Homo sapiens: one gene and its partners. The protein of the gene in region 3 interacts with the protein of the main gene of each other region in a pairwise test. Each region holds a gene or a part of one and is shown on either strand. Other genes may lie near its edges.

Region 1 (7,026 bases), on a different chromosome or scaffold from region 3:
CCAAACAGATTGGAAACACTATAAATTTGATAACTAAGTTCACATGGGTCTTATATACTCCAAAGTGGTGCATGATTCTCTATTAGTTTCTTCCTCCACTCTCTCTAATGACTATTTAATATTGTCTCTATCTTCAACATTTCTACCCCACTCCTAACCCTTGGCTTTCATGATACCCTACTATAACGGCTTTCCCTCCTATCTTTCTGATTATTCTTTCTTAGGTTATTTTGCTATCTCCTCTTCTGATCTACAGGTTGGATATCTTCAATATTCAGACATGGGGTATTTGTTCTCATTGCTCTACATTCTTCCCAGGTGATCTCATTCATTCCCATGACACTAAATACCATTTATATGCTAATAATTCCCAAATTTCCATCTTGCCCAGACCATCACACTAATTTGAAGACCATTATCCTAGTTTGAACCAACATCATCTGCTGGTATTACTATAATCCCCCTAAGTGATTTCCCTACTAATAGTACAATCTCCATATAGTAGCCAGAGTGGTCTTTTTGAGGTACAAATCAAATCATGTTATTCCCTTACTAATCCCTCCAACAATTTCCACCACTCTCAGAACAAAATCCTAAAACATGTCAAGTTTCCTGTAGCTGCTGTAACAAATTACCATAAACCTGGAGGCATAAAACAACAGAAATTTATTATCTCACAGTTCCAGAAACCAGAAGCCTGAAATCATGGTGTTGGCCGGGCCACACTCTCTCCAAAGGCTCTAGGGGATATCTCATTCCCCACCTCTCCCAGGTCCTGATGTCTCTAGGCACTCACTGGCTTGTGGCTGTGTCACTCCAATCTCTGCCTCTGGCTTCACGTGGCCTCCTCTTATGTCCTCTGTATGTTTTTTACAAGGACACATCGCTGGATTTAGGGCCCACCCAGATAATTCAGGATGATCTCATAATCATTAAGATCCTTTGTAGACTTACATCTACAAAGACTTTTTCCTCCCAAATAAGGTCACATCACAGGTTCCAAGGACTACGACATGGACACATGTTTTGGAGGGCCACCATTTAAACCCACTATAGCTTCAAGGCCCTGCCTAAGCTATCTCTACCTCCCCCTACAGCTTCATCTCTGTTTACCAGGTTCTACCCATTCTGGCATTCTTATACTTTCTTGATCTAGGACAGCTCTTTCTCACCCATGATCTTTGCCTATGCTACTCTCCTTTTAGTCCTTACCTAGCTAACTTCTCCTTCTGGTCTTCAGTTAAATCTAACTTTCACAGGGAAGTATTCCTTGACCCCATAAATATAAGGATGTCTCCACTGTTATCCTCCCTTTAAAAAGCACTCTATGGCTGGGTGCAGTGGCTCACAACTGTAATCCCAGCACTTTGGGAGACTGAGGTGGGTGGATCACTTGAGGTCAGGAGTTCCAGACCACCCTGGCCAACATGGTGAAACCCCATCTCTACTAAAAATACAAAAATTAGCCAGGCATTATGGCATGCACCTATAGTCCCAGCTACTTGGGAGGCTGAGGCATGAGAATCGCTTGAACTTGGGAGATGGAGGTTGCAGTGAGCCAAGATCACACCACTGCACTCCAGCCTGGGCAACAGAGTGAGACTTGGTCTCAAAAAAAAAAAAGAAAAAAGCATTCTATTCCTTTCCTTCACAGCTTTGACTATTTTCCTTTGTTTCATCATGTTGTTCCAACAAATGGATTCGTGTTTACTTGTTAATTATTTGTCTCCACCACTGGACCATGAACTCTTCATACCATCTTATGAAGCACATCTGCTTTCTTCCCCTCTGTATGTATACCCAGAGCATAAAATGGCATCTGGCACACAGTAGCCTTAACTAAATAAGGGAGTAGTAAATAAATAGAGTGCCTCCTCTTCCCCTTTTGAACAGGATTAGATAAATGCAAATAGACAGGTTAGAATGGTGACCAGACACCCGAAGACACTGCTGGCCTGCAGTAGATATCACTCCCAGCCCAGCCTGGAAGATTGATAAAGCTTGGCACGAATGAAAAAGTAGTACCCCAATAATTATTAAGTTAGAAGGACTGCTCTAATTTTCCTTTTTTTTTTTTTTTAAACATGACACAGCATCAGGAGGTCCTGAGGACATGTGCCCTCTAATTTTCATTTCTGCTGTGGACAACTATACAACTCAGGAGCTCATTTCACCTTTTACAGTAATCTCCACCTCCTGTCCAAAAGGATTGATTGAAGTTTCTCTGAAATTTTAGGAAAAACTCCAATATAAACTGATTTCCAAGCCCCACCTAATACTAAGCAGACTGATTCATTCATATATATGTGTGTAACTTTCTTAATTCTGCAAATTACACAATGATTCAAGTATTATTAATACTAAATACTACTAGCCTGTTCTAAAGTCTAGCATGCACAGAGGCATGCAAAGAGGTCTAGCATGCAAAGAGAAATCTTTTCTGAGACACCTGAAATTCTCCAGCCTGCTTTTTTTCCTGAGGTATTTTTAAAAACTGAGATATTATTTAAATACCATAACATTTAGTCTTTTAAAGTACACCAGTGTTTTGCCCAACATTTGCACAACTTTTATCACAAATTCCAGAACATTCTCATAATCCCCTACCCCCTGCCACCTGCCAAAAATTCATCTCTGTTAGCGTTCTCTATTCCTCCCTTTCCCAGACCCTGGCAAACACTAATGTACTGTCTCTATGGATTTTCCAGTCTTTTTTATACTCGTGAAACTGAAACACAGAGAGATGAAGTGATTTACACAGAGCTGCAAGTCACTTAGAGAGTAAGGTTAGAATACAAGTATTTACAGGAACTTTTAAGTGTATAAAAATTAGTGAAAATATGTTTAGGTCACCTATATATATGCTAAATGCAGCTATAAGACCATCTGATTTTGTTAGAGTCCTTAGAAGAGTCATTCTCAGGCAGTGTGTCTGGCCAAGGAGAGACAGGGGTATAGGGATTTAGGAATCACTAAAGAGGAAGAGACAGGCCACTGGTGGAAGGGAATTTCATTTATGGACCGGGGAAATATGAGGATATGTGGTTTAGAGGACAGACATTTTTGTTTTCCACCCAGGGTAGTGAAATTGGTGCTAATATGTCCAGGTGCCCATTGCTTCCTTTTATAGTGGTCCAAGTGGGCCCCAGAGATCCCAGATCATTTCTAGTTTGCTCATGAGTAGTTAATAAAATAATGGTACTAACACCCCTTCAGAATACTTGCTGATTAATGACACGTTGTAAAATAATATGGGAATTTTGACTTTTTAAATATCCACTGTCTGAATTTTCAAATAAGTAAAAGAACTGCAAGCTGAACTTACTTCCATTGCCATTATAAATGTATACATAGGAGTATGTTCCCATAGGCTAAAATAATCACAATCTATTTGCAAAAATAATCAGGCACACTTTTTATTTTACATCTTAATCAACATTACAAATACAAAAGGAAAAAAGTCAGAAACAACTCATCACAGAGGAAAAAAACATCATTCAGAAGAGATTAATCTGAACTTCAACGTTCTTTGTGCTCATTTTAAAATTATTAAAACAGGAATTCAAAAGGACAAGCAAATAAAAACCAAGTATTTTATTAATTAAAATTGAGACCCTAAACCAACTAAGACTATACAACTTAAAAATAAGCTGTCTTCATCCTAGAAAAGTTTGATTTGCCATCTTATAATGAATATGCAGGAACTTACTAATGGGTAAGTAAACAAATTTTCTTTTACAAACAAGTTATTTTGAGTTATAGGGATCCTCCTGGTGACTAGATTTTTTTTAATGACTAAAAATGCCTATTTAGATAGTCAACCTATCCGTAAAGTTGGACACTAAATGACATAGTGAACATTTAAAGTTGAAACTCTTTGTCTACCAAATATTTTCCTAAAACTGTTTTTAAGCATATACATTAACTTAAAAGGTCAACTCTTAATTGTCTATAGCCAAAGAGAGCTTTGGTACCAATAAATTCGAATTAGGGAATCGGTTTTTTTAGATGTAGAATTACAGAGTATTTTTGGAATTAAATTGGAACGTGCCTAAATATGAAAATGTGAAAGTCCCACTTTTCTGTTATGTACTCTATTATGAGGAATGAACAGCCTAACTATACTGGATTATTGATATAAATAAAGCACCACTGTAAAATCTCTTCCTAAAAGATTGCTGGGTCACACCTAGCAATTTAGGGCAAAAAGTCAATAAAGAATTAAGGTACTTTATTTTTAAAAGCCTCATTTCCCTTTTGACAGGAGCATCAAGATACTAAAATAAAAATAATGTAATAAGTACTTTCAAAATATAACAATTTTCGTTCTCCCATATAACAGGTGGCTAACAAGAAAACCAAAAATAAATAAAAAGAGAAAATTTAAAAATAAGTAAAAAATAAAAAAATATTTTTAAAAAGCAGCCTGGGCAAGAGAAGTGGGTGGGTTTAGGAGAATCCCTTTCGAAAAATTCAGAGCATTATTATTAATCCTTCTTAAATTAAATGCAGGGCCAAGCATGCTGCACGTGGAATCTGGACAATTTTTTGATAAACTTTAAGGCTGCTAAATAATTTACAGAAACTGTGAATGCATTTTCATTTTACGAGGCAAAAGAGAAAATATTCAAGATTGCATAGCAATTTTATTTTTTGAAATGGTTATCCTAAAGAATTTCCTTAAATTCAGATTTTGCAAAATTCCTACTCTCCAAGTCATCAAGTGAACACTAAAAGCAACTTTACTCGTGAATACAGTGGACTCTTTACGAGGCATGCATTTTTCATAAATCTAGGCCAAAGTGAACTAATTGAGATTTAATTCTAAATTCATCCTGTGATTTCTGCATATAATATTGGTATAAAACCAGTAAAAATACTTTTAAAAAAAGCGTTTACTTCCCGAGTAATTTAGTTTGGAAATATTTACATTCTTAGTCAAAATATTACTTTCAGAGTCTAAAGGTTTTAAAAACAAAATTGGTTCAACAATTATCAAAACGAAACGACTATGAACACTGACTAGAACTTCTTAACCCACAGAAGTAAACCACTTCAGGTGAGTTCAGCTCACTTATTTTATTATTATTTTTTTTTTTTGAGACAGAGTCTTGCTCTGTCGCCCAGGCTGGAGTGCAGTGGCACGATCTCGGCTCACTGTAAGCTCTGCCTCACAGGTTCACGCCATTCTCCTGCCTCAGCCTCCTGAGTAGCTGGGACTACAGGCGCCCGCCACCACAGCTGGCTAATTTTTTGTATTTTTAGTAGAGACGAGGTTTCACCATGTTAGCCAGGATGGTCTGGATCTCCTGACCTCGTGATCCACCTGCCTTGGCCTCCCAAAGTGCTGGGATTACATGCGTGAGCCACCGCACCCGGCCTCCCCTCACTTAATTTTTAAAACCCATTTCTCTTCTCCAGCTTCACAACTGGACTGAACATTGCTCAACTGCTCAACAACATTACCTATGTCAAAAGTGAAAAGATAAAAAGTATTGTAAAGATTGCACAGTGAGTCAATCTGGGAAGAATATACTGTACAATCAGCATTTCAGAGCTGGAAGGGATCTTTAAGATCCAATCCAGCACCCACATTTTACCAATGAGAAAACTAAGCCCAAACACATCATAATAACTTGACCAAAGTTACATTCCTCAGCTGAGCCATTCATTCATTCATTCAGTCATTCATTCACCCACTTACTGAAAGCTGCCTAAGTGCCAGGCTCGGTGCTAGGAGATTGAAAGCACCATTCACAATTGCCAAGGCAGTCTTTTTTCCTTGCATTTTTAAGATAAATTCTTAAATTTCCTGATCAGCAGAACTCGTAGGAGAGTTCCACAGCCTTGGTAGAACCTAGCCCACTTTCAGTTTCACACATTTTAATAAACATAGTTGGGTTTAACTTCAGAGAGGCTTCAATTGTGTTTACTTTAAATGATTAAGCATTAACAAAGGGAGGCATAGTATTCTGGATGAGTCCCTTTCTAGTACATTCATAACTTAAGGAAGTGCAATCAGAAAATGCCCTACACACACAAACACGTTCACAGAGAAGACAGCTTACAAAATCAGAGGAATCTGAGGTATTAATATATACATCAGTGAAGTCCAATAGCTCAAGTTTACAAAGTACGGAATGTAAATATCTCCCCATTTCATTTAAATATGGGTATGTCTGCATGTTAAAAAGGCCTCCAAACTCACACTCAAACAAATGCCCTCTTCCAATTACACATATCTCTAAAACCAGGCCTTTTGCCTTAAGCTCAATTTTCTTTTTGATTAGAAAAAAATTAGATTAAAAAATAAAATCTAAAATTTAATGTGCTGGCTAAAAAAGAAATACAAATTCTATGTAATCAAAATAGCAATGGCTCAAACTGCACATTCATGAGTTTTGTTAAAAAGTGGGATGTGCGGTGAACTTACACATCAACATAAATCATACCTCATTTTACTTGGACCTTTACATTCTTTAATATTAAGTCTGGCACTTAAATGTTTTGTGTGTTTCAATTCATAGTCAACTTCTTTTAAGAAGAGACCATATTGACAAAACTCTTATATAAAACAACCAATAAGTAAGGCATTGTGAAATATTAAACAGCAGCACTCTGGGTACCCAGTTTCAGTGTGATATACCAAAATGAACCCCAGCTTTCCAGTGCTCCACAGATGACTGCTAGGTGGCTTTTGATAAAATAAAATACAATCTTCACTGAGGCTCTTAAGGCTCTTTGACTTTCTTGACACTACTGTCAGCTCATGACGAAAGTGCTGTTGTGCTCTATTTCTCAAAACTCCAAATTTGATTTTTATCTAGAGCATCACAAGTTCTCATTTGTACATCAGGTCGGCCCTCCGGTGTCCGATAAGCACTAAGACACAGTCCTGAGTGTGGGTGAAAAATAGTTCCATCTTCTTTAAAATGCCAAATAATGTTTGCTGGTACAGGGAACCCATCTTTGGGACAATTTTGCATTCCCACATAATTTTTTTGCTCAGGTACCTCTGCACATAAC
Region 2 (7,206 bases), on a different chromosome or scaffold from region 3:
ATCCAAAAAATAAAACTATTTATGATACATAAAAAAAATAGCAATATTTTAAATTAGCCGGGCATGGTGGCAGGCGCCTATAATCCCAGTTACTCAGGAGGCTGACGCAGGAGAATGGTGTGAACCCAGGAGGCGGAGCTTGCAGTGAGCAGAGATTGTGCCACTGCACTCCAGCCTGGGTGACAGAGCGAGACTCCGTCTCAAAAAAAAAAAAAAAAAAAGGAATAATTTAACAAAAGAAGTGCAGGACTTGTACAGTAAAGACGACAAAACATCACTAAGAGAAATGAAAGAAGACTTAAAAAATGGAAAGACATTCCACATTCATGAACAGGAAGACTTACTATTGTTAAGATACAATACTACGATACTCCTCAGATTGATCTACCGATTCCACATAATTCCTATCAAAATCCCAGGTGTCTTTTTTGCAGAAACTGACAAGCTGCTCCCAAGATTCACATGAAAATGCAAGACACCCAGAAAAAAAAAAAAATCTTTAAAAACAAACAAACAAACGAACAAACAAAAAACACAGATACTATAGAAAGTAATTTGGCAGTTCCTCAAAAAGTTAAACATAGGTCAGGTGAAGTGGCTCACACCTGTAATCCCCACATTTTGGGAGGCTGAGGCAGGAGGATCACTTTAAGCCAGGGGTTCAAGACCAACCTGGGCAACACAGCAAGACCCTGACCCTACAAAAAAATTAAAGAATTAGCCACACGTAGTGGCTCATGCCTGTATTCTCAGCTACTCAGGAGGGTGAGGTGGGAGGACTGCTTGAGCACAGGAGTTCAAGGTTGCAGTGAGCTGTGATCACATCACTGCACTCCAGCCTGGGCAACAGAGCAAGACCCTGACTAAAAAAAAGTAGTTAGCCGGGCACAGTGGCTCACGCCTGTAATCCCAGCACTTTAGGAGGCCAAGGCGGGCAGATTACCTGAGGTCAAGAGTTCAAGATCAGCCTGGCCAACATGGTGAAAACCCCTCTCTACTAAAAATACAAAAATTAGCTAGGCGTGGTGGTGGGCGCCTATAGTCCCAGCTATTTGGGAGGCTAAGGCAGGAGAATCGCTTGAACCCAGGAGGAGGAGGTTGTAGTGAGCCGAGATTGCACCAGTGCACTCCAGCCTGGACGACAGAGTGAGACTCCTAATCAAAAAATAAATAAATAAAATAAATATAAATAAATAAAATAAAAAATAAAGTAGTTAAACGTGGTTAGCAAATGACCCAGCAATTCTAGGTAAATACCCCAAAGAGTTGAAAACATGGTTTACACAAAAACTTGTACACAAATGTTCAGAGCAGCATTTTCCTTAATAGCCAACAAGTGATTGAACCCAAATGATCCATCAACACATGACTGAATAAACCAAATGTAGCATATTCATACAACAGAATATTATTCAGCCATAAAACCGACTGAAGTGCTGATGCTTGCTGCAACATGGATGAACCTTGAAAACATGCTAAGTGAAAGAAGTCAAACACCAAAGGCCACATTTTGTCTGATTCCATTCATATGAAAAGTTCAGAATAGTCAAATCTATAGAGACAGAAAGTATTAATATATTAGTTTGCCAAGGGTTGGGAGAAAATGGGGAAAGAGAAGAAATGGTATGACTGTTATTGAGTATGGAGTTTCTTTTTGGGATGATGAAAATATTCTGGAATTAGTGATTACAGTTGCACAACACTGTGAATGTACTAAAAACTACTGAAATGTACACTTTAAAAGGTGAATTCTGTGGTGTATGAATAACTTAATAAAGTTAAAACACCAGAGAGAATACTCCGGAGACTCTCTCCATCCAATAGCAGCTTGTGTCTTAACACTTGAAGGGTTATAATTCAGCCATCCAAACATCTCCCCCTACTCTAAGTATCAGAAACCTCAAAGAAGCATTTTGGGTGCTCCAGGAAGCCCAAAGGCTCCTCCTGGGAAAGGATGTCCTTGGGGCACAGCAAAGCCACTGCCACCCTACAGAGCAGTAACCAGAACAAAGGCCCTATGGCCTTGTGCCCAGCTCCACCCCTAACGCACCTGTCAGAGTCTCCTTTCAACAACAGAGGGAGGAGCAGCTGGGGGAGGGTCCCCAACAGAGCCTTCTGCTCTCACCTAAGCTTCTTGAAAGAACATGCGTAAGAGAGTGTCCGCCCCTAGGCTCAGTGGGCAGAGGCAAGTTCAGGTCCACCCCTGACCAGTAGGTCCCATGGTATCTCTCAACACCGCCTCCCCTCTGTAGTTCCCTGCATGTGGGCCTCATCTCCCTCAACAGTGGTTTATACATGAGGGGACAGGAAGGGAGGTAGAGTACCAGATTAGGAGTCAAAAGGTCTGTATCCTAGCCTGGAATCTCCGTCCATGTCCTCAAGTGCCTCAGGGCATCACAGGCTACCACCCAGCCTCCCTGACTCTCCAATCAGCCAGAGGGCCTTGCCCGTTCAAAGGAATCTCTCGAAATGAGGACTTCTGGAGGAATGTGAACTCAGAGAGGGCGGCTCCGCCCCGCTCACACTGCAGGCCCGGGCATCCCAGCGTCCTGCTGTACCTACCTGCTGGAGCAGGGTGTACCCTCAACAAGACCCCACGCAGCCACCCACTGCTAAGGACGTGGAGAATGGCTAGAGAGGCCCGATACCGGCCCCAGGTCACACATGAGTCGGGACTTGGTCGTGTGTCCCTCGCTAGGATGCAAACTATGGAGGCAGAGGCCTGTTTGTTCGCTCCAGAAACCCAGCGCAGGGCCTGGCACGCAGGAGGCGCTCAGAAAGTGCCCGACCCAGCGCCCCCTGCGCAGACAGTAAACTGGACCTGAAGAGGACCACCCTGGAACCTGGCGCCCCGCCCGCCCCTCGCAGCCATCGCTCTGGCCATTAGGCGCCCAGTGTCCCAGCGGGGAGACTGAGGCCTGGGGAGTTGCTCTCGGCTGGGCTTACCGCGCAGGGCGCAGCCATGGCGGGGCTGGCGGCGCCGAAGGCAGCTGCGGTGGCCGTTGCGGCCCGTTCAGTTTCCGCGCCCCCAACGGCCACCAATAGCAACGCGGGCCGCGTCGGCACGCCCCGCCCACCGCAATTAAAGGAGAAGCGCCTCAGCTTTTTGCCCGACGACTGGAAGCAGAGCTGTATGACCGGCGGCCGGCGCCACGGTCTCCGTGCCCAGTTCCCCAAGCCCAGACAACCCACAGACAGCGCAGCCAAAAGCCTCTGTCCGCCGCCACTCGTTCCGCCTGAGAAATTAAAAGACCCAGGATGAAGGGTTCACCCCACCAGCCCGTCGTCCGGCTACTCTAACGGCGAGCGCAGCCTCCTGGGAAATGCAGTTCCAAGCCGCCCACGCCCCTATGTCTGGAGGAAGGTGGAGCTACACTTCCCAACATGAGATTGCACCATTGCATTCCAGCCTGGGCAACAAGAGGGCGGGCCGGGTTTTACCACCCGAAGCGACGGCCTTAAGGATCCCGGAAGCGGAGGACACGTGGGTTGCTGTAACCAGATTGCGTTAAAGCACCCGCGCGCGCCGGCGCAGCCAGATTTTCCCCGCAGGAACCTATTGAGAGCTGAGTATTCGCCCCTCGGGAACTCTCAGTGGTTCGCCGTCCGAACGTTCTTAAGACAAGTGTCGATTTAAAATAACATGAGTTACTCGGAATCACAATCATGGAGTGGAGAGATCAAGGTTCGATTCTCAGTTCTCGCCCTGATTGGCTGTGTGATCTCAGGAAAAACGCCTCTGCTCTGTGCCCCGGTTTCCCCATTTGTAACACGAGGGAGTGTGGTGCAGCCCGGCCCTGTCAGGATCCTTAAGGCCTCAGAAGCTGTTAGAAACCCAGTCTTTAAAAGAAGGAGAGGCCGGGCTCAGTGGCTCACGCCTGTAATCTCAGCACTTTGCCACTTTGGGAGGCCGAGGTGGGTGGATCACCTGAGGTCAGGAGTATGAGACCAGCCTGGCCAACATGGTGAAACCCCATGTCTACTAAAAATACAAAAATTAGCCGGGCGTGGTGGCACGCGCCTGTAAACCCAGCTACTCGGGAGGCTGAGGGAGGAGAATTGTTCGAACTCCGGAGGCAGAGATTGCAGTGAGCCTAGATGTTGCCGCTGCACTCCAGCCTGGGCAACAGAGGGAGACTCCGTCTCAAAAAATATATATATATATAAAATAAAATTTGAAGGCCACCAGCAACCATCTGAATAGACTCCCTGCTTGGCCAGGGCACTCAAATTTAACCTGAAAGAGTGGTTCAGGCCATGATGGGAAGTGGGGGTTGGACATGCCTCATTATACCCTCCAGCATTAACATCAACAAAAACCTTAAGTCTGATAAGAAACATTTACGATCTATTTTCTCTGAAACCTGCTACCTGGAGGCTTCATCTGCATGGTAAAACCTTGGTCTCCATAACCCCTTATCTTAACCGAGATATCCCTTTCTACTGATAATAATTATTTCAACCAATTGCCAATCAGAATATGTTTAAATCTACCAATGACCTGGAAGTTTCCCACTTCGAGTTGTCTTGTCCTTCCAGATCAAACCAATGTAAATCTTACATGTATTGATTGATGTATTTTGTCTCCCTAAAATGTATAAAACCATGCTGTGCCCAGGCCACTTGGGCACATGTTGTCAGGACCTCCTGAGGCTGTGTCATGGGTGTGTCCTTAACCTTAGCAAAATAAATTTTCTAAGTTGACTGAGACCTGTCTCAGGTATTTCGGGTTGACAGTTTGGCAACCACGAAAGGATTCTGAGTGGAGGTGCCCCTGACCTTTGACAGATCTCCTATCGGTGCTTGGTACCAGCTTGAGCTATCTTTATGGCTCAAATCTACAGGACAATTTGCTAAGGCCTGGGAGCCCCCCTCCACAAAATTCCTGATCTTCCCAAATTTGGTTAACATCTAAAGTTTATTTTACTGTACAACTCCTTTTTCTGGAGTTTTACTTGTTTCCAACAAGGAAGGCAGGTTTTCCTGCTTCCCTGACGATGGAAGGCAGGTAACTCCTTTCTGGAGTTTGAGCTCGCTTCCAACAGAGAAGGAAAGTTTGAGTTTTCCCTACTTCTGGGATGGTAGAGAGCAGTCTTTAGCCTAAGACCTGTTCTTAGGTAAGTAGCCGAATTGGGGATTTTCTTGGCTGAAGTTAAGGTTAACAACCAGCTGGTCTTAATTTTCCTTACCATTAGAGTGCTCAGTAATCATATAAATTGTACGATCAAGCCCGGCATGGTGGCTCACGCCTGTAATCCCAGCACTTTGGGAAGCCAAGGCGGGTGGATCACGAGGTCAGGACATCGCAGACCATCCTGGCTAACACGGTGAAACCCCGTCTCTACTAAAAATACAAAAAATTACAGGGCGTGGTGGCTGGCGCCTGTAGTCCCAGCTACTCGGGAGGCTGAGGCAGGAGAATGGCATGAACCCGGGAGGCGGAGCTTGCAGTGAGCCTAGATCAAGCCCCTGCACTCCAGCCTGGGCGACAGGGCGAGACTCCGTCTCAAAAAAAAATAAAATAAATAAAATAAATAAACAAATTGTGCGATCACTTTTTTTTTTTTTGCTTAACTGTTTTTTGTTGTTGTTTGTTTCTGTTTTTGTTGTTTCATTCTTTTTCCCATTGAGGTTGATGAATTATATCTGACTTGATCAAATCTGAAGGAAAGTTCCAAAGTTTGGGGAACAAGGCCTCTGAATTGGCTAAATTCCCACAACAGAAAAAGAAAAAAGCCTGGGCAAGGTGGCTCACGCCTGTAATTCCAACACTTTGGGAGGCCGAGTTGGGTGGATCACCTGAGGTCAGAAGTTCGAGACCAGCCTGGCCAACATGGTGAAACCCCATCTCTACTAAAAATACAAAATTAGCTGGGCATGGTGGTGGGCATCTGTAATCCCAGCTACTCAGGAGGCTGAGGCAGGAGAATCACTCAGAACCCGGGAGGCAGAGGTTGCAGTGAGCCGAGATCGCACTCCAGCCTGGGCGACGCAGCGAGATTCCGTCTCAAAAAAAAAAAAGAGAGAGAAAAACAGCCAGCAAAAAGAAAAAAATAAGGAGAGATTTTTTATTTTGATTACCTAAGGGGCTTTATTTACATAACAAGGCCACCTTTTTGCTAACCAAGCCAAACTGAAAGAGGAATGCTGTTGCCCCAAACTGCAGTTCCATAGCTAAGGTTCTGCCCACTTTTTTTCACCAGGACAGCCTGGGTTTGGTTCCTAAATCAAGCCCTTTTTGGTTTGATATTTGTGTTACTTTTGAAATATCAGTTATTTGTTCTAGCTAAAATATGGTAATGATATTTAAAAGGTTTTTTTTAAAGGCGCTTAATGGCTTAAAGTCAGCTTACTTAAAAGCTAACATCCAAGATGGTGGGGGTGTGTGTGTGTGTGTATTTAAAAGGCTTTCATGGTTTTTTCCTCTCCTAGTACTTTGGTTTCTTTCAGAAAAAAAATTATTTCTTCTCTATCAACTGAATTATTTTTTATTTTTATTATTTTTGTGTGTGTGTGAGATGGAGTCTCACCCCTGTTGCACAGGCTGGAGTGCAATGGAGCGATCTCGGCTCACTGCAGCCTCCACCTCCTGGGTTCAAGCGATTCTCCTTCCTCAGCCTCCCAAGTAGCTGAGATTACAGGTGTGCACCACCATGTCCAGCTAATTTTTGTATTTTTAGTAGAGACGAGTTTTTGCCATGTTGGCCAGGCTGGTCTTGAACTCCTGACCTCAGGTGATCCACCTGCCTCAGCCTCCCCAAGTGCTAGGATTACAGGCATGAGCCACTGCGCCCAGCCCTGAATTCTGTTTTCTTTTTTCTTTATTTCTTTCTTTTTTTTTTTTTTTTGAAAAGGAGTCTTGCTCTGTCACCCAGGCAGCTGGAGTGTAGTGGCTCAATCTTGGCTCACTGTAACCTCCACTTCCCAGGTTCAAGCAATTCTCCTGCCTCAGCCTCCTGAGTAGCTGGGATTACAGGCGTGCACCACCATGCCTGGCTAATTTTTGTTTTCTTGTTTGTTTGTTTTTTGTTTTTTGAGATGGAGTTTCGTTCTTGTTGCCCAGGCTGGAATGCAATGGTGCAATCTCAGCTCATCGCAACCTCCACCTCCCGGCTTCAAGCGATTCTCCTACCTCAGCCTCCCAAGTAGCTGGGATTACAGGCATGTGCCACCACACTCGGCTAATTTTTTTGTATTTTTAGTACG
Region 3 (7,026 bases):
CCCCTGCAGAGCTTTCCCTGCAGTTCTGCCTTAGAGATGCTTGAAAGAGGGTTTATTGACCACTGATCACATGGCAAGTGCCCTGCAAGGCCTCTAGGGGTATGTGCGTATGTGTGCACATGCACACTGTGTATGGGTTGGCATTGAGTTGAGTGTCCTAAGGGTATGTTCCTGGCCAGAGGTGAAACTTTGACACTTGACTGGTCATGGAGGATGAATTGGTTTGCCAGGTGACCTGAGAATGGGGATGAGACATTCTAGGCAAAGAACAACACATGCCAAGATTGCTTTTATTTATTTTGAGACAGGGTCTCCCTCTGTTACCCAGGCTGGTGGCGCGATCTCTGCTCACTGCAACCTCTGCCTCCCGGGTTCAAGTGATTCCCCCACCTCAGCCTCCCAGGTAGCTGGGACTACTGGCGTGTGCCACCACACCGGGCTCATTTTTGGATTTTTAGTAGAGACAGGGTTTTACCATGTTGGCCAGGGTGGTCAAGAACTCCTGACCTCAGGTGATCTGCCCGCCTCAGCCTCAAGTGATCCACCTGCCTCATCTTCCCAAAGTGCTGGGATTACGGGCATGAGCCACCACACCTGGCCAAGACTGTTTTTAGAGATAATAACTTAGACCAGGCATAATGGCTTACACTTGTAATCCCAGCACTTTGGGAAGATGAGGCAGGTGGATCACTTGACCCAGGAGTTTGAGACCAGCCTGGGCAACATGGCAAAACCTTGTCTCTATAAAAAAATACAAAAATTAGCCAGGCATGGTGGCATGTACTTATAGTCCCAGCCACTGGGGAGGCTGAAGTGGGAGGATCACCTTAGCCCAGGGAGGTCGAATGCATTCCAGCCTGGGTGAGTGAGACCATGCCTCAAAAATAATAATAATAATAACAAGATAGAGGCACAGAGACATGACCTCAGGGTCACGCAGGTAAGAGTAGACCAGGAACTCAAATCTAGGTGTGATTTTGAAGTATGCATGGAAATTGGCCAGGAGGGCTTGTTAAAAATACAGATTGCCTGGCCATACCCCAGAATTTCTGATCCAGTAGATCTGGAGTGGGGCTTAAGATTTAGCGTTTCTAACAGGTTCCAGGTGATGCTGATGCTGCAGGTCAGGGGAACCCTGTGATGTGGACCTCACTAGGCTCTTGATTTGTGCTGTCATACTCAATCCTCATGACGGATAAGGAAACAGGCTTAGAAAGAGTCAAAGTTGTTCACTTGTCTAAGGCCAGGAGCCAAATAATGACAGGTGGCAATAGTATGGGTGGAGGGTTGTCCTTGGGTAGCAGGGAGGCTGGCTAGCACATCCTGGAGTGGAAACCTCCTGGGAAGGTGTAGTGGAGAAAAAGGATTTGAAGTTGATAGCTTGCTTGCTGGAGAGAGGGTGAACAGGCTCTTCCTTCAAGAAAGCTCCCTGGCTTTGACCTGGCGCGGTAGCTCATACCTATAATCCCAGCACTTTGACCGGGCACGGTGGCTCACACCTATAATCCCAGCACTTTGGGAGGCTGAGGCAGGCGGATCACTGGAGGTCAGGAGTTCGAGACCAGCCTGACCAACATGGAGAAACCCCATCTCTACTAAAAATACAAAATTAGCCAGGCGTGGTGGCACATGCCTATAATCCCAGCTACTCGGGAGGCTAAGGAAGGAGAATCACTTGAACCCGGGAGGCGGAGCTTGCAGTGAGCCAAGATCACGCCACTGCACTCCAGCCTGGGCAACAAGAGTGAAACTCCATCTCAAAAAAAAAAATTAAAAAAAAAAGCTCCCTGGCTTTCTGCTAACGTGTCCTTTTTGGGTGTGGTGTCAAGTCTTGCATAGCTGGACTGTGGTCTTGGAGACAGGATGCACTAAGAGTAAGAGTGATTAGTCAGAGGAGTGGGCCTGAGAACTCAGGAAAGGCTTGTGAGGGACTGAGGCTTGAGTTTTTACTTTAAACAGCGCCACTTTTTTTGTTTTGGTTTTTTTGAGACAGAGTCTCGCTTTGTCACCCATGCTGGAGTGCAGTGGCCTGATCTCAGCTCACTGCAACCTCCACCTCCCTAGTTCAAGCAATTCCCCTGCCTCAGCCTCCTGAGTAGCTGGGATTACAGGCGCACGCCACCGCGCCTGGCTAATTTTTTTGTATTGTTAGTAGAGACGGGGTTTCACCATGTTGGCCAGATTAGTCTCCAATTCCTTTATTTATTATTATTATTTTTTTTTGAGATGGAGTCTTGCTCTGTCACCAGGCTGGAGTGCAGTGGCACGATCTCTGCTCACTGCAACCTCTGCCTCCCAGGTTCAAGCGATTCTCCCACCTCAGCTTCTCGAGTAGCTGGGATTACAGGCCCCCGCCACCATGCCCAGCTTTTTTTTTTTTTTTTTTTTTTTTTGTATTTTTGGTAGAGACAGGGTTTCACCATGTTGGCCAGGATGGTCTTGACCTTGTGATCCACCCTCCTCAGCCTCCCAAAGTGCTGGGATTACAGGTGTGAGCCAGCGCGCCCGGCCAAGCATCACTTTTTAAAACAGCCAGTTTATTGAGACAGGTGCTTTGCAGGTATTGTCATTACAACCCTATGAGATAGATGTATTTTCCTCATTTTGCACATGAGGAAACCGAGTTTCTGGGTGCAGTGCTTTGCCCTTGCACCCAGCAGGTAGAGAGTGGGGCTGGACTCCAGGCTGTGGGACACTGTCCCCTGCTCTGATGCCTCATGGCCTTTCTTCCCTCTCCAGCTTATCACACAGACTTTCAGCCACCACAATCAGCTGGCACAGAAGACCCGGCGGGAGAAGAGAGCCCGGCAGGAGGCCGAGCGGCGGGAGAAGGCGGAGCGGGCGGCCAGACTGGCCAAGGAAGCCAAGTCAGAGACCTCAGGGCCCCAGATCAAGGAGCTAACTGATGAAGAGGCAGAGAGGCTGCAGCTAGAGATTGACCAGGTGAAGGGTGGGCTTCCCTTCTCCACCCCTCAGATCCCCCCTGGCACTGAGCAGTGGGGTCCTGTTGCCAACTGCTGTGCTCTTTGCCCCAGAAAAAGGATGCAGAGAATCATGAGGCCCAGCTCAAGAACGGCAGCCTTGACTCCCCAGGGAAGCAGGTGAGATGGACTGCAGGGACTTGGGATGAGCCAGGAGCTTGGAACTTACAGGAAATCTCCTGCCTACTGCTTTCTCTGGAATACCCTTCCTTATCCTATCCCCTCCCCTCCTGGCTTTGGGAATCTTCCCCATACTTTAAGATCACACTCAGAGACATTGAACCAAAGGATCCAGGTTAAAAAAATAAAAACCTGCCAGGCGCAGTGGCTCACACCTGTAATCCCAGCACTTTGGGAGGCCGAGGTGGGTAAATCACGAGGTCTGGAGTTCAAGACCAACTTGGCCAAGATGGTGAAACCCCATCTCTACTAAAAATACAAAAATTAGCCAGGCATGGTGGTGGGCGCCCGTAATCCCAGCTACTCGGGAGGCTGAGGCAGAGAATTGCTTGAACCCGGGAGGCGGAGGTTGCCATGAGCCGAGATCACGCCACTGCACTCCAGCCTGGGCGACAGAGCAAGACTCCGTCCCAAAAAAATAAAATAAAAACCGACTGACCTTAACCTGTTTATGGCAAGAAAACCCAATAGCCAGAGAGGGCAGTGCCTATTACAGGTCCCATCTGAGGTTGGCTGGGTTCTGTGGGCCCAGCCATATCCTTTGTCACATGGTATAATATTAATAGTCTGAGCTCCTCTCAGACTGAGATCAGAACCAAGTTTTACCTGGTTCCCAGTGGACCAAGGCTTGGGGGTCTGCCCCTCTGTGGAGTGGGCAGGGACCAGGTCTGTTTTCTTTTGTGGCTGTATGCCCAGTGCTAGCCCTGGGCTTGGCCCAGTGAGGGTTCAATCTGTGTCTTGTCTGTCAAGTAAGTAGCTGAGTGTCCCTGATTGTAAGCAGGATACTGAGGAAGATGAGGAGGAAGATGAGAAGGACAAAGGAAAACTGAAGCCCAACCTAGGCAACGGGGCAGACCTGCCCAATTACCGCTGGACCCAGACCCTGTCGGAGCTGGACGTGAGTGTCAGGGACCAGAGGTAAAGCTTAGGGGGCCAGCCTGGGGTACCAGCAGCACTTAGTGGCCTCTTCTGACTGCCTCTGCCCTATGCAGCTGGCGGTCCCTTTCTGTGTGAACTTCCGGCTGAAAGGGAAGGACATGGTGGTGGACATCCAGCGGCGGCACCTCCGGGTGGGGCTCAAGGGGCAGCCAGCGATCATTGATGGGGAGCTCTACAATGAAGTGAAGGTGGAGGAGAGCTCGTGGCTCATTGAGGACGGCAAGGTGGTGACTGTGCATCTGGAGAAGGTATGTGAGGCCCAGCCCTTCTAGCCTGGGGTGTTGATGGAAGTAGAAGGGAGGATGTGTGCTTAGTTTACTCAGGAGCCATGCTGGGGGCATTGTGGGATTATCTTAATCCCCATGACAACACTCTTTAAAGTAGATCTGTCTCTATTTTATTTTCTTAAAGACAAGGTCTCACTCTGTTGCCCAGGCTGAAGTGCAGTAACACCTTCTTAGCTCACTGCAGCCTTGAACCCTTGGGCCCAAGCAATTCTCTCGCCTCGTCCTCCTGAGTAGCTAAGACTACAGGTGTACACCACCACGCTCGGCTAATTTTTGTTATTAAATTTTTTTGTAGAGACCGGGGGGTCTCACTATATTTCCCAGGCTGGTCTTGAACTCCTGGCCTCAAGTGATCTTCACACCTTGGCCTCCCAAAGTGCTGAGATTACAGGCTTGAGTCAGGAAAAGAGCTCGTTGATTTACCCAAGCTCCTACCTCTGGGAAGGGGTGGAGTCAGAATTGAAAGTCTTAGTTTCTAAAGCCACTTCTTTTTCACTAGGTTTGTACATGCATTCAATTCATCAAATACTTGAACACCTGCTCTGTGCCTGGTACTGTTCTTGTTCTAAGTGCTGGAAAGAGAACAGTGAACAAAACATAGGAAAATATGTGCCCTCAGGAAGCCTTCATTCTCAACCTCACTGCCTTTACAGAGAGGTAGGACACAGAGATCAGTAAATAAAGGTGGTCTGAAAAGGGCCAAGGGTCTGAGGAGAACTTCCCAGGGCACATAAGACCCTGTAACAGCCTGTCCGACTGGCACTGGCTGCCTTCACTCACTCACCCCTCCATGCCTCTGCACTTGCTTTGTCGCCCAGGCTGGAGTGCAGTGGCGCGATCTCGGCTCACTGCGAGCTCCGCCTCCTGGGTTCATGCCATTCTCCTGCTTCAGCCTCCAGTGTAGCTGGGACTACAGGCGCCCGCCACCATGCCTGTATTTTTTTTTTTGTCTGTTTTGTTTTCTATTTTTTAGTAGAGACAGGGTTTCACCGTGTTAGCCAGGATGGTCTCGATCTCCTGACCTTGTGATCCGCCCACCTCGGCCTCCCAAAGTGCTGGGATTACAGGTGTGAGCCACCATGCCCAGCCCTTTCCCTGCCTTTTAAATTTATTTTTTATTTTTTGAGACAGGGTCTTGTTCTCACCCAGGCTGGAATGCAGTGGCGCAATCACGGCTTACTGCAGCCTTGACCTCCCGGGCTCAAACGACCCTCCCACCTCAGCTTCCTGAGTAACTGCGAGCGCCACCCTACCTGGCTAATTTTTAAATGTTTTTTGTAAAGACAGGGTCTCATGTTGCCCAGGCTGGTCTGAAACTCCTGGGCTCAAGGGATCTTCCTGCCTTGGCTTCCCAAAGTGTTGGGATTACAGGTAGGAGCCACTGCACCTGGCACTTCCCTGCTTAAAAACTTTTTCTGGCTGGGCGTGGTAGCTCATGCCTGTAATCCTAGCGCTTTGGGAGGCTGAGGTGGGCAGATCACGAGGTCAGGAGTTTGAGACCAGCCTGGCCAAGATGGCAAACCCCATCTCTAATAAAAATACAAAAAATTAGCTGGGCATGGTGGTGGGCGCCTGTAATCCCAGCTACTTGGGAGTCTGAGGCAGGAGAATCGCTTGAACCCAGGAGGTGGAGGTTGCAGTGAGCTGACTGCACCACTGCACATGGTGGCTCACACCTGTAATCCCAACACTTTGGGAGACTGAGGCAGGCAGATCATCTGAGGTCAGGAGTTTGAGACCAGCCTGGCCCAATATGGTGAAGCCCCGTCTCTACTAAAAATACAAAAATTAGCCAGGTGTGGTGGTGCATGCCTATAATCCCAGTTACTCGGGAGGCTGAGGCCGGAGAATTGCTTGAACCCGGGAGGCAGAGGTTGCAGTGAGCCGAGATGGTGCCACAGCACTCCAGCCTGGACAAGAAGAACAAGACTCCATCTCAAAAAATATATATATTTATTTTCTTCCCATTTTAAATCTGGAATACTGCTTTGTGTCTTAAGACTCAGCCCGAGTGTCACTTTCAAACTTTTCTCCCTCCACCCTGGATGAATATCTCCCTTTCTGCTTTCTTCTTTCCCTTATCACACTGATTTGTAACTCTTTGCCTCTGTGTCTCCCCTAGCTGCAGGAAGGGCACAGTCTTGTACCTCTGGATCCAGTGTAGGCCTGCAAGGGTCTCAGGTGCAGGATGTGGATGGGAGAGAGTTTGGTTGTGAAAGGGTTAAGGGGTGATTCCTGGTGCACAGAGCAGGCCACCTCCCACCCTCTGGTTGTTCTCTTCACAGATCAATAAGATGGAGTGGTGGAGCCGCTTGGTGTCCAGTGACCCTGAGATCAACACCAAGAAGATTAACCCTGAGAATTCCAAGGTGAGCCCTGGCTGGTTGGGGGAGCTTCAGCAGGAAGGTGAGGGGCCTCGTTGTTTCCAGAGCTTCACCGATTCCTGTCACTGCCTGCCCTCAGCTGTCAGACCTGGACAGTGAGACTCGCAGCATGGTGGAAAAGATGATGTATGACCAGCGACAGAAGTCCATGGGGCTGCCAACTTCAGACGAACAGAAGAAACAGGAGATTCTGAAGAAGTGAGCAATTCAGAGACGGGGTTGGGGGACCGTGGGTGCCTGGGGGCTTAGACTTCG
Region 4 (7,026 bases), on a different chromosome or scaffold from region 3:
CTTTACAATGTGGGATTTAAATTTAAAATATGAAACATAAAAATCTACACAAAACTGATAAAAATCAAGCACAGATACCAGGATTGAAACTTATAATAATCCATGTGTGAAAGGGAGTCTTGTTTCCTTTCAAGTGCTTTATTCTGCTATGGAACAGTCAAAATGAAGATGTAAAGCTTTGTGGTTAGTTTAAATTATACACTCTGTAGATACTATACCAATTTTAAAAGTTATACATAGACCAACAGATGTCCCTCAGTTCATCTGGATTGATAAGACACTCCAGCTGGATTGCTGAGAACAAATCAGGCAAATGTGGAAAGAAAATCCACCTGTGCAATTTGTTTGCAGAGTTTACTGATGGGCACACTGCACTCCAGGTCCATGATGGCTGCTGCTTTCTTCATCAGAGCTATCATTATAGGCTTCACGCCTCTGACCACCTCCTGAGCCTCGAGTGCTATCAAATTCCTGAAGCTCTACCTCCTCTGTTTCTCCAATTATGTTAGGAACTTCCGGTCTAGATGGCAGAAGATCTTCTAGTTCCTTTATTAAAACAAACAAAAACCAGGTTGGTTGTAATATTTTCATCAACTTTCCTTTTGATACATAGAATCCAGTGTCTGTTTAAGAGTTTAAAAAGGGGCTGGGTGTGGTGGTTCATGCTTATAATCCCACCCAGCACTTTGGAAGGCTGAGGCGGGCGGATAATGAGGTCAGGAGATGAGACCAGCCTGGACAACATGGTGAAGCCTTGTCTCTACTAAAAATACAAAAAATTAGCCAGGCATGGTGGTGGGTACCTGTAATCCTAGCTAGTCAGAAGGCTGAGGCAGGAGAATCGCTTGAACCTGGGAGGTGGAAGTTGCAGTAAGCTGAGATTGTGCCACTGCACTCCAGCCTGGGTGACAGAGCAAGACTCCATCTCAAAAAAAAAAAAGTTAAAAAAAGGAATGTGGACTGGACTTTGAACTCTAAGTAAAAGATCACAAACTCATCACTCACAGGCCAAATTCTGCAGACATCTTTTGTGCAACCCATCTATTGCTTTAAGAACCAAAAAAAAGGTCATTATCTGCCAATACTTAAACATTAGAAAGTTTCTACAGGAGACACACCTTCCTGCATCCGGCATGGACACCAGCTTACGATAAAGGGGTAGTGGTCCTGCCCTCTGCAAATGAGGAACCTGTTCTCTCCAGGGAGTGCTACTCCTCATCACCACCCACACCGGGTCTACTTTACTCCTCTACAATTCCCTGCTTGGCCCCATCAACATTTACACCAGCAATACCCCATTTCCTAACAACTAGGAAAGCCTACCAATCACACAAATATACTTTAAAATTGAAAGTAACATGACTATTAAGAAACTTGAAGTCGGCTGGGTGCAGTGGCTCACGACTGCAATCCCAGAACTTCGGGAGGCAGGAGGATTGCTTGAGACCAGTCTGGACAACATAGCAACATCTCTATAAAAAGTTTTAAAAAGCATTAGCCAGGTGTGGTGGTACACACCCGTAGCAAGCCATGATCATGCCACTGCACGCCAGCCTGGGCAACAGAGCGAGACTCTCTTAAAAAGAAAGAAACTTGGCTGGGTGCAGTGGCTCACGCCTGTAATCCCAGCACTTTGGGAGGCCGAGGCAGGTGGATCATGAGGTCAGGAGATCGAGACCATCGATCTAACATGGCTAACATGGTGAAACCCTGTCTCTAACTAAAAATACAAAAACAAAATTAGCGGGGCGTGGTGGCGGGTGCCTGCAGTCCCAGCTACTTGGGAGGCTGAGGCAGGAGAATGGCATGAACCCAGGAGGTGGAGCTTGCAGTGAGCTGAGATCGTGCCACTGCACTCAAGCCTGGGTGACAGAGCAAGACTCCATCTCAAAAAAAAAAACAAAAACAAACAAACAAAAAAACCCCATAAACAAACAAACAACAACAACAACAAACTTACCAGGCATCGTGGCTCATGCCTGTAATCCCAGCTACTTGGGTGGCTAAGGCATGAGAATCACTTGAACCTGGGAGGCGGGGGGTACAGTGAGCCGAGACTACACCACTGCACTCCAGCTTGGGTGACACAGTGAGACTGTGTCTCAAAAAATTTTTTTTAAATTAGCCAGGCATGGCAACACACACCTGTAGTCCCAGCTCCTTGGGGGCTGAGGTGAGAGGATCGCTTCAGCCCAGGAGGTCGAGGCTGCAGTGAGCCACGATCACACCACTACACCCCAGCCTGGGTGACAGAGACCCTGTCTAAAAAACCAAAAACCGAACTCCAAACTTGGAAGTCAACTGTTGTTTAATTTAAAGAACACTTACAGAAAGCTTGTCTGGGTTGATCCAGTTGTTTTCAGGAAACTGCACATCAAACTTTATGTAAAGATCACCTTTTTCAAAGGGATTACGATACTGCGGCATCCCTTCACCTCGAACTACACGAACACACCCTATTATTTAAGAGGAAATGATTAATAATTTTACCCAAAAGAGGTGTTCAATTTTTTTTAGAGTTATGCAGTATAAAAAAATTACAAATTGTAATTTTTTTCAAAAATACTTGAAAACCAGAATCGGACAAAATCAAGATTTACCTGGTTCAATTACTTTGCCAGGGGGGTATTTCACCACAATCTGACGTCCATCAAGGTGCTTAAATGTGAACTGAAATCCACATAGAGCTTCAACAAGTCCTATTTTATATGTCATGTGCAAATCATTCCCATCTCTCTGAAATACCTATAAATAAAGCACAAAAGAAATACATTTTCTTAAAAATTATGGAGGTACACCCTGCAGCATTATGTTCCTTGACTTAATTTCAAAACCTTATTTCTACCACTCACTGCAAATCCAAAGTGCCACTGTCCCTAGTGCCCTAAACCGCATTAGGAAAGCTAGCTATTCCCAAGTAGTATGTGAGAAACTTCCATGAGGAAGGTGTACTGGAACTGGTAAACAATGGCATATATAAGAGCAACAGAACTGAGGCCCTCAAAACAGTGCCAGGTATATTCTGCAACTATTGCCCACTTTCAGACTCTGCCTCTGGTGAAAAAGGTACAGAATGCCCAGAGGGCTCCTACAGAACAGGCTCACCCTGGAGTGCTCCCCAGACATGATCGTAACAGGGAAGGGGGGAGGGTCCAAGATCAACATAAAACCCAACATCAACCAGTTAACACCCAGCCAGCAAAGTCAAGTGGCTCAATTCCGTGCTTCACACACATACCAACAAGTCTCACATCTCACTAAAATGCAAAACTGGCTCATTCAATATTACACTATAAGCCTATGGACTAGGTAATGCAAAAGGTATTGAGAATAAGCACAAAGAATGTTTCTGAGCCTTCAATGTGTAGGAAAAATACATCCAACTTCACACGCCCAACCTGCAATTTTTGCTTAGATTTTACAATGGTCACTCTTCTTGTAAAGAACAATCCTGGCCGGTTCACTTATAGAAAATCTGGTAGACAGGTTCTTTTCCTATGTTACTCTCCTAAATTTACTCATTAAACAAAGTTAAACCATTACCTTAACCAATGATTCTCTAAGTGTGGTTCTGGACCAGCAGCTTCAGGAAACTTGTTAGGAACACATATTCTTGGGCCCCACTTCCATTCCTGCCAGAAACAAGGCAGGCAAGATCCAGCATCTGTAGTCCTAACAAGCCCTCCAGGCAATTCTTGTGTGTGTGCTAAAGTTTGAGATCCAAGAAGGTATGTTATGTATGCACATATATTCAAGTGTTCCTCACAATGGGACCAATAGTTTTTTTAATGCAGGATTTTTCAACGCATTAAAAATGCTAAGTAGGCCAGGTGCAGTGGCTCACACCTGTAATCCCAGCACTTTGGGAGGCCAAGGCAGGCGGATCACAAGGTCAGGAGTTCAAGACCAGCCTGGCCAATATGGTGAAACCCCATCTCTACTAAAAATACAAAAATTAGCCAGGTGTGGTGGCACGCGCCTGTAGTCCCAGCTACTTAGGAGGCTGCGGCAGGAGAATCACTTGAACCTGGGAGGCGGAGGCTGCAGTGAACCAAGATCACACCACTGCACTCCAGCCTGGGCGACACAGCGAGACTCCATCTCAATAAGAAAAAAATAAAAAAATTTAAAAAAGCTAAATATAGGGTCAGAGCTTTGGGAGGCCAGTTCAAAACAGCAACATAGGGAGACAAAAAATTAAAACATAAACTAGGCTAGTTGAGGCAGGACGATCCCTTGAGCCCAGGATTTGGAGCCTGCAGGGGCAGTCCCTCCTCATTAATGATCCAGCCACTGCACTCCAGCCTGGGAGACAGAAGGACATCCTGTCTCTTAAACATAATAATAATAAATTTAAAATAAATGCTAAGTATACTGTAAAATGCCAGTGTTCTAAGAACCATCTTACCAAATATCCTTTGTTAAAGTCATACTATTTTAGGATGCATGCAGTGGCTCATGCCTATAATCCCAGCACTTTGGGAGGCTGAGGCAGGTGGATCACCTGAGGTCCTGGTCATCATGGCGAAATTCTGTCTCTACTAAAAATACAAAAACTAGCTGGGTGTGGTGGCATGAGCCTGTAGTCCCAGCTACTTGGGAGGCTGAGGCAGGAGAATCACTTGAACCCGGGAGGTGGAGGTTGCAGTGAACAGAGATCGCGCCACTGCACTCCAGCCTGGGTGACAGAGTGAGACCCCATTTCAAAAATAAAAACAAAAATAAAAAGTGGGGCAGGGCACGGTGGCTCACACCTATAATCCTAGCACTTTGGGAGGCCGAGGTAGGCAGATCACTTGAGGTCAGGAGTTTGAGACCAGCCTGGGCAACATGATGAAACCCCATCTCTACTAAAAATACAATTGCGCCACTACACTCCAGTCTGGGTGACAGGGCAAGACTGTCTCAAAAAAAAAAAAAAGAAAAGGGAACAGGAAGAGATACACATCACGTTCTTGTACAGGAGAGTTCAACTGAAAGTGATTTCAATAAAAAATGATTATGATTATCAGGATGGTTGTTGCAGCAGAGCGGGGAAGCTAAACAATTTGATGTTAAAAGTTTAAACAGAATAAACAAGCAAGGATGCCAGAGAGTTTCTGAAAAACAAGATTAATGAGGAGGGACCACCAAGCACTAGACCAGAAAACACTTAGAAGTCATATTTCTGAATAACAAAAGTACAGGTTATAGAGGCGTGACTAACATCACCAGGTTCTGTGGTTTGATGCTGTACAAGTGCACTATGGTAACCAGACCACCGAGACACACAAACAGGCACACTGACAAGTGACATGGCAGGATGATGACTATAGATGATACAGCACTCCCAAGAAGGAACGAGACAAACTTCCATTCTAACCTTTACCATCTTCTATTTTCTACTTTAGACAACTAGCTACATCTGCCTTCTGTTGAAAATTCCATGCCAATTCCACTGCTGCCAACAATTTTCAGAGATGAGTTACTTCCCAACACCTCCCCACAGGCCCCAAGAAAGAAGCTTATTCATAATCTCATTTGACTCTTTAATATCCAAAAAGTCCAGGGAAGCCAAAGCTAGTAAACGGGGCCCAGACCTTAAGTCCTTTGCCTCCAAATCCAATGATCTACTTTTAAAAACCCAATTTAATTATGCAGCAACATTAAAAACTAAACTTAGGGATAAAAAAGGTTTTACCATCAGTTTGACATGCCTCAAACCAAAAAAAAGTCATCCTTCCTCTGCAAATAAGCATTCCTTCTTCACTTCCTATCATGCTGCTGCACTGCCAGACATCATTTGACAACGAACCCCAAACGACTCCAAGGATTCTATCAATGAAAATGCCCAGGCACTGTCTGTACCATTTTACAACACAGTCTAACCTCCAAGCAGAATTTCCAATTATTTAGCTGTCTTGCTAGCTTTCTCCCTCATATTCCTGGTATGGTGGTGTGCACAGCAGCAAGACTGAAGGAACAAGGAAGTAGCTAAAATGTTAACAAATAGCAAATCTTGTAAATATTTCATTCTACAAGACCCAAAGGCAGAATTCTAAAAACTACTCTTACTTTTTGACAACCGAGGAGACGTTTGCTATCTGTAGGGTTGGCAATTTCCACAAAAAGCCAAAATACATAATTTGTAGCTTTGCTGAGTCATGAAAGCTGACTAGCATGCCCTGATTGTCCAGGAGATCAAGTCTGACCTTGTGAGGGATTACTACCAAATTCCTAAAACCTGCATCTCAATATGGCTTTGTTGTTCTCTATTGGATTCTTAAAGTGATTTTTAAAATTTACTCTATTTGAAGAAATGATCACCACAGAAGGACGATCTCCTTCTTTATCAAATATAACCTTTAAATTATAAATGATAATCAGCTTGCCCACCTTTTTAGAATTAAAAAGAATAACCTTTCACTGAACATAATACAAATTTACCATTTCTCCGTGTTCATTGGGCTTATGCATAGGAGAAAATTTTAGGGCAAACTAAAAAGGTGGTTAACCTGTGATGTAATGATTTTCAGAGGAACACATGAGTAAATGTGATCAAGTACAAAGCTAGAGTCCTATCAAGTGCTTCTAACATTCAAGAATTTAGGTGATTACTGGAGGGGTTTTTCATGAATAGTTCCAGATTTATTCTTTGAGTAGGGTCTACAGTATACAATATGGACATTAAAAATATACAAGTGCAATGTTAAAATCAAAATAACATACACTAGGCTGGGCACTGTGGCTCACACCTGTAATCCCAGCACTTTGGGAAGTTGAGACAGGAGGATCGCTTGAGCTCAGAAGTTCAAAACCAGCCTGGGCAATATGGCAAGACCCTGTCTCTACTAAAAATACAAAAAAAAAAAAAACCCCAAAAAACAAACAAACAAAAAAATAGATGGGCATGATGGTGCACCAGTTGTCCCAGCTACTTGGGAGGCTGAGATGGGAGGATTGCTTGGGCCCAGGGGCGAAGGTTGCAGTGATCCCAGATCACACCACTGTACTCCAGCCAGGGCGACAGAGCAAGACCATCTCAAA

What was found.
Region 1: the proteins of NUDC (region 3) and POC1B interact in binary tests that used the Homo sapiens proteins (3 or more experiments, as listed by UniProt).
Region 2: the proteins of NUDC (region 3) and POC1A interact in binary tests that used the Homo sapiens proteins (3 or more experiments, as listed by UniProt).
Region 4: the proteins of NUDC (region 3) and DNAJA2 interact in binary tests that used the Homo sapiens proteins (3 or more experiments, as listed by UniProt).

What each region holds. Positions count from the first base shown.
Region 1 is NC_000012.12:89,516,022-89,523,047, forward strand, and holds part of POC1B (POC1 centriolar protein homolog B), read right to left. Parts: coding exon of another isoform or gene 6,792-7,026; exon of another isoform or gene 3,391-6,791; intron 1-3,390. Other genes in the region: POC1B-GALNT4 protein, read right to left, coding at 6,792-7,026; GALNT4 (polypeptide N-acetylgalactosaminyltransferase 4), read right to left, coding at 6,792-7,026.
Region 2 is NC_000003.12:52,151,409-52,158,614, forward strand, and holds the start of POC1A (POC1 centriolar protein homolog A), read right to left. Parts: upstream 3,016-7,206; 5' UTR 2,965-3,015; coding exon 2,947-2,964; intron 1-2,946.
Region 3 is NC_000001.11:26,938,718-26,945,743, forward strand, and holds part of NUDC (nuclear migration protein nudC), read left to right. Parts: intron 1-2,739; coding exon 2,740-2,943; intron 2,944-3,035; coding exon 3,036-3,101; intron 3,102-3,942; coding exon 3,943-4,059; intron 4,060-4,153; coding exon 4,154-4,348; intron 4,349-6,672; coding exon 6,673-6,756; intron 6,757-6,850; coding exon 6,851-6,969; intron 6,970-7,026. UniProt on the Homo sapiens protein: Plays a role in neurogenesis and neuronal migration. Necessary for correct formation of mitotic spindles and chromosome separation during mitosis. Necessary for cytokinesis and cell proliferation.
Region 4 is NC_000016.10:46,956,675-46,963,700, forward strand, and holds part of DNAJA2 (dnaJ homolog subfamily A member 2), read right to left. Parts: intron 2,746-7,026; coding exon 2,601-2,745; intron 2,457-2,600; coding exon 2,329-2,456; intron 547-2,328; coding exon 355-546; 3' UTR 1-354. UniProt on the Homo sapiens protein: Co-chaperone of Hsc70. Stimulates ATP hydrolysis and the folding of unfolded proteins mediated by HSPA1A/B (in vitro).